Linked DNA regions of Homo sapiens. The protein of the gene in region 1 interacts with the protein of each later gene in a pairwise test. Each region holds a gene or a part of one and is shown on either strand. Other genes may lie near its edges.

What was found. Proteins that work in one complex are often made in the same cells at the same time.
Region 2: the proteins of NTAQ1 (region 1) and NDUFAB1 interact in binary tests that used the Homo sapiens proteins (3 or more experiments, as listed by UniProt).
Region 3: the proteins of NTAQ1 (region 1) and KRTAP9-8 interact in binary tests that used the Homo sapiens proteins (3 or more experiments, as listed by UniProt).
Region 4: the proteins of NTAQ1 (region 1) and THAP6 interact in binary tests that used the Homo sapiens proteins (3 or more experiments, as listed by UniProt).

What each region holds. Positions count from the first base shown.
Region 1 is NC_000008.11:123,430,274-123,433,773, forward strand, and holds part of NTAQ1 (protein N-terminal glutamine amidohydrolase), read left to right. Parts: intron 1-3,500. UniProt on the Homo sapiens protein: Mediates the side-chain deamidation of N-terminal glutamine residues to glutamate, an important step in N-end rule pathway of protein degradation.
Region 2 is NC_000016.10:23,586,317-23,589,816, reverse strand, and holds part of NDUFAB1 (acyl carrier protein, mitochondrial precursor), read left to right. Parts: intron 1-2,497; coding exon 2,498-2,620; intron 2,621-3,500. UniProt on the Homo sapiens protein: Carrier of the growing fatty acid chain in fatty acid biosynthesis.
Region 3 is NC_000017.11:41,236,564-41,239,504, forward strand, and holds KRTAP9-8 (keratin-associated protein 9-8), read left to right. Parts: upstream 1-1,435; 5' UTR 1,436-1,488; coding exon 1,489-1,968; 3' UTR 1,969-2,441; downstream 2,442-2,941. UniProt on the Homo sapiens protein: In the hair cortex, hair keratin intermediate filaments are embedded in an interfilamentous matrix, consisting of hair keratin-associated proteins (KRTAP), which are essential for the formation of a rigid and resistant hair shaft through their extensive disulfide bond cross-linking with abundant cysteine residues of hair keratins.
Region 4 is NC_000004.12:75,524,473-75,527,499, forward strand, and holds part of THAP6 (THAP domain-containing protein 6), read left to right. Parts: intron 1-2,487; coding exon 2,488-2,742; 3' UTR 2,743-2,957; coding exon of another isoform or gene 2,958-2,987; 3' UTR 2,988-3,027.

The DNA of each region.
Region 1 (3,500 bases):
GTGATCTAGACTCTTACCATTTAGCACAGGAAGGAACTTTGGCTACACATTAGAATTATCTGGAGACTGTTAAAAATGTAGTTTTCGGCTGGGCGCGGTGGCTCACACCTGTAATCCCAGCAGTTTGGGAGGCCAAGGTGGACGGATCACTTGAGGCCAGGAGTTCAAGACCAGCTTGGCCAACATGGCGAAACACCATCTCTAATAATAATACAAATATTAGGCCGGGCGCAGTGGCTCATGCCTGTAATTCCAGCACTTTGAGAGGCTGAGGTAGGTGGATCACTTGAGGCCAGGAGTTTGAGGCCAGTCTGGCCAACATGGCAAAACTCCGTCTCTACTAAAAAAAATACAAAGATTAACTGAGCCTGGTGGCACTCACCTGTAGTCCCAGCTACTCGGGAGGTTGAGGCAGGAGAATTGCTTGAACCCGGGAGGTGGAGGCTGCAGCGAGCTGAGATTGCTTCACTGTACTCCAGCTTGGGTGACAGAGAGAGACCCTGTCTCAATAAATAAATAATGTAGTTTTCTGATTTAGTAAATCTAGAGAGGGGTTCAGGAGTTAGTGTTCTTGATGAACTCCTAGGTGAACATGACTGGCATTTGAAAAATACGGATCTACTCCCACCCCTTTATTTTTCAGGGAAGAAATAAACACAGAAGAGCAAACTGAGTAGCTCAGAGTGGCATGGTCAGTGGCAGAACTGGGTCTCACACCTGGGTCCTTTTTAGTACACATCTACATGTCACCTTAACCCATTCCCCTAAAGAATGGAGGCTAGGGTTGGGCACGGTGGCTCATGCCTATAATCCCAGAACTTTGGGAGGCCGAGGTGGGTGGATCACCTGAGGTCAGGAGTTCAAGACCAGCCTGGTCAACATGGTAAAACCCCGTCTCTACTAAAGTACAAAAATTAGCTGGGTGTGATGGCGTGTGCCTGTAATCCCAGCTACTCGGGAGGCTGAGGCAGGAGAATTGCTTGAACCTGGGAGGCAGAGGTTGCAGTGAGCTGAGGTGACGCCATTGCATTCCAGCCTGGGCAAAAAGAATGAAACTCCATATCAAAAAAAAAAAAAAAAAAAATAGAGTTTTTATGCTAATAAACACGAAAGCAAAGTAAAAGGAAAATGACACTGATGAATTGGAACAAACTCCTAGTTTCTGGGTATTTATTTAAAATTATGTATCATTTGATTGGCTTCGCTCATTTATTTAACATGTATATATTGAGTGTGTTTTATATGCCAGGCTAAAAACAGATTAAAATCCCTGACCTCACAGAGCTGACGTTCTCAGTTTCGTTGCCAGCAGGTGATCTTGCATGAAAGCTGCTCTTGCATGAAAGCCCAAGCCCCTCAGCTCTAGGGTTAGGAGCACAGGCTCTGGAGTTAGGCATACTGGGTTTAAGTCCCAGGCCTCTCATTGGTCAGCTGTGGGATCCAGATAGGTTATTTACCCTCTGTCTTCAGTGTCTCCCCCTGGTCAGTGGGGTCGTGAGGCTTAAATGAGGTAATGCACAGGAAGCATCTTCCTGGTGTCTGCTACTGGTACTCAGGAAGTGTTGGCAGTTACTGTTAGCAGTGATACCTAACCCCTGTTATAGATGGTCCGTGTGCACGAGAAATCATCCCTGTTGCTGAACAGCTTAGCTGATTTTGAGTCGTGGTCTTACTCCCCATCCTAGGGAAACTTGGAGGGGAAGGACCTGTAGCCATGTCTCCCTTACACATCTCATGGCAGCTCAAGATGGGGAATCCTGTTGCAAGAAGTCTCCCCACACCCTCTGGCAGGTTTTGCTTTGCCTCGCTGCTGTCCTGTTGTAGGGCATGGGTAGGCCTCGCTGAGTGAGCAGAGACACCAGTGAGTAGTAGTGAGTAAAATTCGAGAACACTAAATCCTGAACCCCTTTCTAGATTTACTAAATCAGAAAACTACATTGTTAACGCAGTCTCTGGATAATTCTAATGTGTAGCCAGACTACATATTGCCAAAGTCCCTTCCCATGCTAAATGGATAAAAGTCTATGACATCACAAATATATCTGCCACATTAGCCATTTAAAATCATTCCTATAATAATTTCAGGTTGGGCGTGGTGGCTCACACCTGTAATCCCAGCACTTTGGGATGCAGAGGCAGGCAGATCCCATGAGGTCAGGAGTTCGAGACCAGCCTCATCAACATGGTGAAACCCTGTCTCTATTAAAAATACAAAAATTAGCGTGGTGGTGGGCGCTTGTAGTCCCAGCTACTTGGGTGCCTGAGGCAGGAGAATTGCTTGAACCTGGGAGGCAGAGGTCACAGTGAGCCGAGATCATACCACTGTACTCCATCCTGGGCGATACAATGAGACTTCATCTCAAAAAAAAAAATCATTCCTATAATAATTTCTTTTTTTAAATTTTATTTATGTATTTTTTTTTTGAGATGGAGTCTCACTCTGTCGCCTAGGCTGGAGTGCAGTGGTGTGATCTCGGCTCACTGCAAACTCTGACCCCCAAGGTTTAAGCAATTCCTCTGCCTCAGCCTCCCGAGTAGCTGGAATTACAGGCATGTGGCACACGCCTGGCTAATTTTTTTATTTTTAGTAGAGATGGGATTTTGCCATGTTGGCCAGGCTGATCTCGAACTCCTGACCTCAAGTGATCCGCCCGCCTCGGCCTCCCAAATTGCTGGGAGTACAGGCGTGAGCCACTGTGCCTGTCCTCCTGTAATAATTTCAAAACAAAAAGTTAAAAGAAAACATGCCTATAGTCCTTCTATCTTAGACCAAATAACATGGAGCAGATGGTGGCATCTGTAGGTGACATCCCCACTCCTAGCACAATCAGTCTTTTCCTGGCAGCTGGGCAGACACTGAACCAACTCAGAGAGTGAGGCCGCTGCTCAAGCCTGCATTCCTTGGCTCCTCATCTGTGCCATGAAGGCAATTTTGGGCCAACCCTTTTCCTTTGCAGTCCCTCAGCTGCCTAGTGTATAGGAATGTGGACCTGAACTTACTAGAGAGTTGTGAATAGTCATTATGTATGCCTTTTCACAAGTTGTACCTTCTTTCTGGAAAGCTGTCCCCATCAGGCAAGATTCTGCAATGGGGTCCTTTCCTCTGTGAAACTCTCTTTGGCCATTGGGCTCCTGTCCTCTTCCTTTCTTGGTTGGCTTTAATTTTTTATTTTTATTTATTTATTTGTTTTTGAGACAGATTCTTGCTCTGTTGCCCAGGCTGGAGTGCAGTGGCATGATCTTAGCTCAGTGCAACCTCTGTCTCCTGGGTTCAAGTGATTCTCGTGCCTCAGCCTCCTGAGTAGCTGGGGCTACAGGTGCATGCCACCATGCCCGGCTCGTTGTTGTATTTTTAGTAGAGACGGGGTCTCACTATGTTGACCAGGCTGGTCTTGAACTCCTGACCTCATGTGATCCACCTGCCTCGGCCTCCCAAAGTGCTGGGATTACAGGCATGAGCTACCATGCCCAGCCTTTGGTTGTCTTTTAAAAGGGTTGAT
Region 2 (3,500 bases), on another chromosome or scaffold:
TTATAGGCACACGCCACGATGCCCGGCTAATTTTTGGACTTTCAGTAGAGATGGAGGTTTCACTGTGTTGGGCAGGCTGGTCTTAAACTCCTGACCTCAAGAGATCCGCCCACCTTGGCCTCCCAAAGTGCTGGGATTACAGGCGTGAGCCACCACACCTGGCCTCGTACCATTTCTTGATAAGCACACAGCCTCTGTTAGATCCCTCCAACTGAAATTTCTTTTCTGCCATTGCCATATTACCTCATTTCTTCTCCCCCTTTCTCTTTATTCCTTTCTTCTCCATTTTATTTGTGACTTGGAAACCTATTTGAGTCATTGTTAAGTAGGCCGGTCATGTGCCTGTATAAAAGGTCTCCTTAACCCATGTATAATACGAAAGGAGACTAGACATTTAGACAAAGAAACATGCTCTAAAACTCTTGAAAGTACTCAGAAAGGCTCGTTAGAATATCTATCATACTCTCCAACTCATCTCTTTAGTTTGCTGATTAAACCTGATTTTTTTTTTTTTTTTCTTGAGACGGAATCTCACTCTGTCACCCATGCTGGAGTGTAAATGGCATGATCTTGGCTCACTGCAACCTCCGACTCCCAAGTTCAAGCGATTCTTCTGCTTCAGCCTCCTGAGTAGATGGGATTACAGGCACATGTTACCACGCCCAGCTAACTTATATTTTTGGTAGAGACGGGGTTTCTCCATGTTGGTCAGGCTAGTGTCGAACTCCTGACCTCGTGATCCGCCTGCTTCGGCTTCCCAAAGTGTGGCAATTACAGGTGTGAGCCACTGCGCCCAGCCTAAACCTGATTTTAATAACTGACTTCTTTTTCTTTTCTTTTTTGAGACAGAGTCTCGCTCTGTGGCCCAAGGTGGAGTGCAGTGGCACAGTCTCGGCTCACTGCAACCTCTGTCTGGGTTCAAGCAATTCTCATGCCTCAGCTACCTGAATAGCTGGGATTACAGGCACACACCACCACGCCCAGCTAATTTTTGTATTTTTAGTAGAGACGAGGCTTCACCATGTTGGCCAGGCTGGTCTCGAACTCCTGGCCTCAAGTGATTGGCTCACCTCGGCCTCCCAAAGTGCTGGGATTACAGGTGTGAGACACACATCGGCCCAATACCTGTTCTTTATGCAAGATGAATGTTTCTTCTACAGAGGTTATACTGGTTTGGTTCTCTGGGCAGTATTTATTATGATTTTTCATGGACCTTTGTGAGTTTCAGGGACCTGAGCCCTAACAAGCAGCCCCACTTTCTATAGGGAAATGCCTGAAGAACGCCAAGCCTCGGACTTAAAATCAACTTCAGGAGGTAAACAAACCAATTTAGATTAGGGATTTCTTTCTTTTTCTTTTTTTTGAGACGGAGTCTTGCTTTGTCGCCCAGGCTGGAATGCAATGGCGCAGGCTCGGCTCACTGCAACCTCTCCTCCCACATTCAAGCGATTCTCCTTCCTCAGTCTCCTGAGTAGCTGGGATTACAGGCGCCCACCACCACGCCTGGCTAATTTTTGTATTTTTAGTAGAGACGGGGTTTCACCATGTTGGCCAGGCTGGTCTCGAACTCCTGACCTCAGGTGATCTGCTCACCGTGGCCTCCCAAAGTGTTGTGATTATAGGCGTGAGCCACCACGACTAGCCAGATTAGGGATTTCAGTAGTGAGCAAAACTGCCAGATACCCTGTTTTGTTTTCTCTGATTCTGCGTCGTACCTTCCACAGCATTAAACCCCCTGACCTGTAATTGCAGCTCATTCCACATTTGTTGAATGAAATCTGGTCAATACCCTAATACCTAAACATTGAGCCGACTAATACCAGAGATACGTGAGGTATTGCTCTAACATGGCACAGGCCAGAAGGGCTCATGGTTTGGCTGGTGGCCATGAGGCAAGCCTCGCTGGAAGGGAAACAGATTGGAATGTAGTGACTGTAAGCTCCCTCATCCCCTCTTTGGGTGGGAGGCCAGCTTCCTTTGTCCTGGCTGAGATCAGGGAGATAACTGCTGGAACCAAACTAGACCTTTCTGGTGTATGGTCCTCAATTTGAATTGCCTTTGGGTTTACCATGACAGCTCTTTCCTTTTGGGTTATTTTGACTTGGGTCAGCCTATTAAAGGTGGCAGCACCCTGTAGAGGCCTCGGGATGCTGAAGATGCCATGAGAAGACACAGGCATTCTGCAGACGCTAGACAATTTTAGTGGCAGTTAGTGTCGCAGAGCAGTATGAATGTCCAGAGCCTGAGGGTTGAAGCCAGGAGGCAGAGGGGCCGGTCCTGACTCCCAGGAAGGAGGCCTGAGATGCTGCTGAACTGTTGGGGCTTCTGCGATTACCCAGTCCTGCAACTTAGTGTGTCCTGGTGGCCACAATGAGAATCAGATGCTGTGGGTTCTCTAAAGCCCCGAAAGTTCTGTGAAAGTTACCTATAGGCTTGTGCATTGATTTAGAGGTATTTTCCATTCAATGACAGTGTTTCCTTCCTGCCGTCGCTCTAGGTTCCTGGTAGAGTTACACAGTTGTGCCGCCAGTATAGCGACATGCCTCCTTTGACGTTAGAGGGCATCCAGGACCGTGTTCTTTACGTATTGAAACTCTATGACAAGATTGACCCAGAGAAGGTAACTGATGGTGGTTTGAATTTTTTTCTTTAAATATAGAGTATTTAATTACATGCTAGAAAATGCAAAGGGAAAGATACTCAGTAAAAATCTCCCTGGCTCCCAGACACCCAGGCCCATTCTGGGAGATAGCCAGCGCTACCAGTTTCATGTATGTTTCCAAAGGTACTCAATGCATATGTTAAAGAAGTATACACACGTGTGTATATTATATGTATGTATCTCTCACCCTTTTTAAAAAACACAACTGGCCGGGCACTGTGGCTCATGCCTGTAATCCCAGCACTTTGGGAGGCCGAGGCGGGCGGATCACCTGAGGTCGGGAATTCAAGACCAGCCTGACTAACATGTAGAAACTTCATCTCTACTAAAAATACAAAATTAGCCGGGCATGGTGGCACATACCTGTAATCCCAGCTACTCGGGAGGCTGAGGCAGCAGAATCACTTGAACCCGGGAGGTGGAGGTTGCAGTGAGCCGAGATAGCGTGATTGCAGTCCAGCCTAGGCAACAAGAGTGAAACTCCATCTCAAAAATAATAATAAATAATAAAAACACAAGTGGGGCCGGGCGTGGTAGCTCACGCCTGTAATCCCAGCACTTTGGGAGGCCGAGGCGAGTGGATCATGAGGTCAGGAAATGAAGAGCAGCCTGGCCAAGATGGTGAAACCCCATCTCTACTAAAAATACACAAATTAGACAGGCGTGGTGGCAGACACCTGTAATCCCAGCCACTCGGGAGGATGAGGCAGAGAATTGCTTGAACCCGGGAGGGAGAGGGTGCAGTGAGCCGAGATCATGCCACTGCACACTGCAGCCTGGATGACAGGGTGAAACTCCATCTAACAACGAAAAAAAATTGAATCTGTTGTGTAGGTAA
Region 3 (2,941 bases), on another chromosome or scaffold:
CGACACGTCAGGGAGGGAGACCTGGAACAGATACTTCCCTCGCAGTCTTCAGATGAAAACAACATTGCCAACACCTTAATTTCAGAAAAGAGGCCTTCAGAACTTTGATAAATAAATTTAAGCCACTTTTTTTCAGTAATTCATCAGGGCAGTGCTAGTAAATTAATATACTCAGTAAATCTCCTGAGCTATAGATATATTCTGCTACACTATATGGCTTGAGGGTAATTATCCCTCACCAAATAGTAACTACTTTCTCTGTCTGCTGCTTTGCTTATATGAAGAGTCCAAAATGACTAGGCGATAAAGATTACTTTTGTTTATGCCAAAGAAATAGAGAAGCAAATACTATACTTTTTATTCACATGAAAATTTTAAAAAGCCAAAAGTTACCTACAGGATTACAACTGATAGAGTGATTAGCTGTCTTTGGGAAAGAGTAAGAGCATATAATTGGGAGAGAATGGAATTAATTTCTATTTCCTAACATAGATGTAATGGGACATAAATGTATTTACAATATAATACTATATCAAGTTGAAAATTAATAGTTTGCATTTTCTCAAATGAATGGTATACCTAGAAAATGTTTTAAACATGTTAGAACTCCATGATGAATCAGGCATCATCTCAACTCATCTAATTCCTTCATTAAAAAGAAATAGAGAGAGAAGACATGATGCTTACTGTGCTGGTAACTGGGTTGCAGCTAGAGCCAGAGCACATGCTGGTTGGCCTGAATCTCAAGCAGTTATGTCATAGAGAGTCCTACATTCTCGTCCTGGAATCGCCACACTCACAGACAAGTCAGAATGAATGGTCACTCAGGGCATAGTTTGCTTGATGTTGTCTAAATCCCAGTGAATTTCTCTGCATCCCCCTGCTCTCGATCTGCTCTGCCACATGGAACACACTGTGACAGACACCCTCTTCCCAAGTGACGTTCAAATAACGGAAAGGCACAGGTGGTGAGGGTGGTACAGAGAGATGCCTGTTAGTCTTGAGTCAGAATTTGGTGGGTGACTAGCCTTGGGCCCAGGCATGGATTCATTTTGTCACTGTAAATATATCAGCATCATGCTTCTCCCCACAGACACTTCCCAGTCTATATACAGCCAAACATGAGGCTGGCCAGAGAGCTTCCTGAGCCTCCCAGATCAACAGGAACTATCACATGACTAGATGATGGTCAGAATAGGAATGATGCTGATGATGAGACGGGCTTCCTTTTATCTCAAACAAAGTGTCTATGAGTAATTCACAATTAAGAAACAGATTAAACCTTAATCTGTTTAACCTTAAGGAAACAACTACCCTTTGAGAATCACAAACGGACTGTGGAAAACAAGATAAACAGCAACAAGGAAAAGTCCTGCTGATTGGTGGAAACTTTGGAGGCCAGGTGTATAAAAGGTCCAGAATGCAAGGGGTCATCAGATTCTGGGAAACTCACCTCTGAACAGAACTCCACCCTCTACCCCTGACACCATGACCCACTGTTGTTCCCCTTGCTGTCAGCCTACGTGCTGCAGGACCACCTGCTGGAAGCCCACCACTGTGACCACCTGCAGCAGCACACCCTGCTGCCAGCCCTCCTGCTGTGTGTCCAGCTGCTGCCAGCCTTGCTGCCGCCCAACTTGCTGTCAAAACACCTGCTGCCAGCCCATCTGTGTGACCAGCTGCTGCCAGCCTTCCTGCTGCAGCACACCCTGCTGTCAGCCCACCTGCTGTGGCCAAACCAGCTGTGGGTCCAGCTGTGGTCAGAGCAGCTCCTGTGCACCTGTGTACTGCAGAAGAACCTGCTACCACCCCACGACTGTCTGCCTGCCTGGTTGCCTAAACCAGAGCTGTGGCTCCAACTGCTGCCAGCCCTGCTGCCGCCCAGCCTGCTGTGAGACCACCTGCTGCAGGACCACTTGCTTCCAGCCCACCTGTGTGTCCAGCTGCTGCCAGCCTTCTTGCTGCTGATCACGTTCCAAGAGAACCACCATCCTCACACAACAAATTTCTGCTCAACTGACTCATCTTTTGGGGGACTAATTTAATTTGCTGCTGACAGCCACCATGCTCTCACCCAAATTTTTATGAATTCTCTACATGTTTAAAATCTTGGAAATCTGCTTGAGGGAGGGCAGAATACTTCATCCTGATTCTCTTTTTCCTTACACCTTGTGGATCATGTGCCAGCTTCATCTGTTCTCAAGTTTGAGTCATGGTCTCAGCTTTGACTCTAAAGTCAAGAGCTTCATTCCCTGCTTCTAAGGAATTTAGGTTTCTGCAACTGATCGATGATCTTTGCAATCTTTTTTTTGTTTTCAATATCCTCCTCATCGTTCTTGTATCCTTCTTTCTTCTTTTCATGATAAATTTGTGTTGTGTCCCTGGTAGCAGAAATCCTTACCTATATGTTTCTGAATAAATTCTGAACCATCCTCATCTCATATAGTGTTTTGTTTTATTTGAAAGCACTCCTGATATGGGATTTACACACATATCACATACCATAGTTATTATCCAATTTGATTCTCAAAACAGGTGGTCATGCATTATTACCTTCATTTTTCACCTGAAAAAAAATTAATATGTGATGTTATGTAGCTAATAAAGGACAGATTCTGATCCAAGCTGAGGTCCTCTCTTTCTGCCCAAGGACACTTACATTTAACTCTCAACATAGTAGAAATGACATTGGAAGTCAGCACTAGCAAGACATGCACTTGAGTTTATTTAACAATGAGAGGAATGATCTCTTATATTTGCAGATAACATTTTTGTTCACAAAAAAGTTTTCCCAAATAAGTTTCCCACACCTCAGTGAGCAACAGCTGCATGATATGGCAGCAGGGACTGCATTTAATGGCTGCCCTGAAAGCAGGGATCTCTTTTTGTCTCATCCTCTGACCAGTCATTCATTCAATTCATCTGCATCAAAAAATGCTTG
Region 4 (3,027 bases), on another chromosome or scaffold:
TATAGTGCAACTATGCTGGTGATGAATTCTTTCAGTATTTCTGTTGCTTAAAAAGTTTAATCTTCACTTTTGAAAGATATTTTCACTAGGTAATCAAATTCTAGGTTAACAGTTTTGGGGGCGGGGGCAGTTGTTTTTGGTACTTTTTAAGACGTTGCCCTGCTGTATTCTTACATGCACCATTTCTAATGAAAAATTTAATTAATGTCATACTCACCTTTATTCTCTGTACCTAATACTTCTTTTTTTCTTTGCTTTTAAGAATTTTTCTTTTTTTAAATTTTTTATTTATTTATTTTTGGAGACAGGGTTTCCCTCTGTCACCCATGCTAGAGTGCAGTGGCACACTCACAACTCACTGCAGCGTCAACCTCCCAGGCTCAAGCAATCCCTCCACCTCAGCCTCCTGAGTAGCTGGGACTTACAGACATGTGCCACCATGCCAAGCTAATTTTTGTTTGTTTTTGTAGAGACCAGATTTCTCCATGTTGCCCAGGCTGGTCTCAAACTCCTAAGCTCAGGCGATCCCCCTGCCTCGGCCTCCCTAAGTGCTGGGCCAGGCGTGAGCCACCGTGCTGGACAATAATTTTTGTTTTTTTCTACTGCTTTTGCCTAATCTGATGATGATATGCCTTGGTTTCATTTTCTTCATATTTCTTGTAATTAAGATTTGTTGAGCTTTTTTATTTAGCAGTTTATACTTTTTATCAAACTTGGAAAAATTTTGGCCATGATTTCTTCAAATATTTCTTTCTATCCCAATTTTTCCCCTCCTTCAGGAATTCTAATTATGTGTATATTAGGCTGTCTGAAATTGTGCAACATGTTACTGATGCTTTATTTTTTTTCTATCTCCTTTTCTCTCTGTAGTCCATACTGGATAGTTCCTGTTGCTGTAACTTTACATTCACGAAATCTTTTCTTCTTCAAAAAATACACTGCCATTCTCTCCAGTGTATTTTTTTACCTCACACATCAGTTATCTGTAGATATTCTATTAGAGTCTTTTTTATATATTTTATGTACTTAACTTTTTGAATATATAGAATACAATTTTAATAACTTTCTTAATTGTCTGCTAATTCTAACATTTGTGTCAGTTCCGGCTTGGTTTCCATTGATTGATTTATCTCTTATTATGACTAATGTTTTCCTGCTTATTTGCATGCCTGGTAAATTTTGCATGCCATGAATTTTGGGTTTTAATTTGCCAGATGCTAGATATTTTTGTATCATGTTTTCTTGAGCATTGTTCTGGAGTACAGTTAGTTAGAAACTGTTCGACCCTTTCAGATTTTACTTTGTTTGACAAGACTGTTTTGCATACTTAGTGTCCATGAATCTTGACATTTTCAAGTCTGGCTAGTGGGAATAGTGGCTATACCCTGTGAGCACAGGGCACTCCTAATCTCTGGTTGTTCTTTCCTCAGCCTTGAGTAGTTTCCTCATGTGCATGTGCTGATCTTACTCCATGGAATACTCAAAGGGGAGCCTCTGAAGATCTTGAGTTTTTTCTGTGCAGCTCTCACCTGTCTAGTACTTTGTCCTGTGAACTGTAGCTACTTTGGTCTCCCTGGATGTTTTGCACTACCTCCTCAGCTCAGTCTGCTAAGCTCTGCCTGGGTTTCCCTTCCTTGCCCTGAGGCCGAGAAACTCTCAGGCAGTTAGCTGGAGCAGTCTTAGGTCTCACCTCTTTGCTTCCCATCTGTCCACAATAGCTGCTGTCCTTGCCAAATATCCATTATCTTAAGAGCTATTTTTTTCTGTCTTTTAGCCTTGTGTTGGTTCTTGGAGGTAGGGGTCAATCCAGTCTCTGTTACTTCATCTTGGCTGGAAATAAAAGTCTTCTTTACTAATTTTAATATTAAATAATAGCTTTTCAAAATTATTTTATAGTACCTTTATAAGCTATGTCAGTGTTATTTTCCCTATTCTCAAATGAAAAAGGAATAAAAGCATACCCAGCAAATTTAAGCATAACCATAATAAACACCAAGAGGAGTTGTCTCTTGAAAATTCCAAGACCAGAGTCCTCTCTAAATCCCCAACACCGAGCCTGAGAACCTGCTGCAGTACTCTTTTCCTGTCACACCTTATCAAATGCAATAGCCATCCAATAAAGTAACCCAGTTAAAAACTTAATTTAAATTTGTTTGATAGGTAAAAATTAAACTTAGCAGCACCACATTGAATGAACAAAAGCTGTAGAGTCATTGCAAGTGTCATGCTATTCATAGAGATAAGTGCTTCCCATCCATAATATTCTGCAGTCTTTGTGTATGCCTGGCCTTAGTAAAAGGAGGGATGCCCTTAGCACCCTAAATATTGCTTCTACCCCCATCTTCTTCCTGTGTTCCTTAAACCTCTATCACCAACTTAAAAATGTTCTCCAGGCATTGTAAATGAAGAAACAGCTTAGACCTAGTTATAAGCTTTTATCCAACTACATATCTGTCTGATTTAATAACTTGGTGTTTATGTTTTTAGGAACATAGCTACAGTGTAATGGACAGTCCAAAGAAACTTAAGCATAAATTAGATCATGTGATCGGCGAGCTAGAGGATACAAAGGAAAGTCTACGGAATGTTTTAGACCGAGAAAAACGTTTTCAGAAATCATTGAGGAAGACAATCAGGGAATTAAAGGATGAATGTCTGATCAGCCAAGAAACAGCAAATAGACTGGACACTTTCTGTTGGGACTGTTGTCAGGAGAGCATAGAACAGGACTATATTTCATGAAATAATTTCATGTTACGTTCCACCTAAAATTGTCATTGGTACAAATTTTTATAAAATCTCATTTACCATCACTAAATAATATCCATCATTTAAAGTGCTGCTTTGGATTCTCTGGAGCATTATGCATTATAGTTGTTATCCAAAGACTTTTTTGAAAATATGCAGAAATTTGTGGTAATTATGTATTTGTGTCTTGTGACAATTATGTTTTATAGACCTACACTAGTGCCAGGTCACTATTGTAAGATGTTAAAATCTCAAGAAAATTTCACAGAGCTAAAGAAA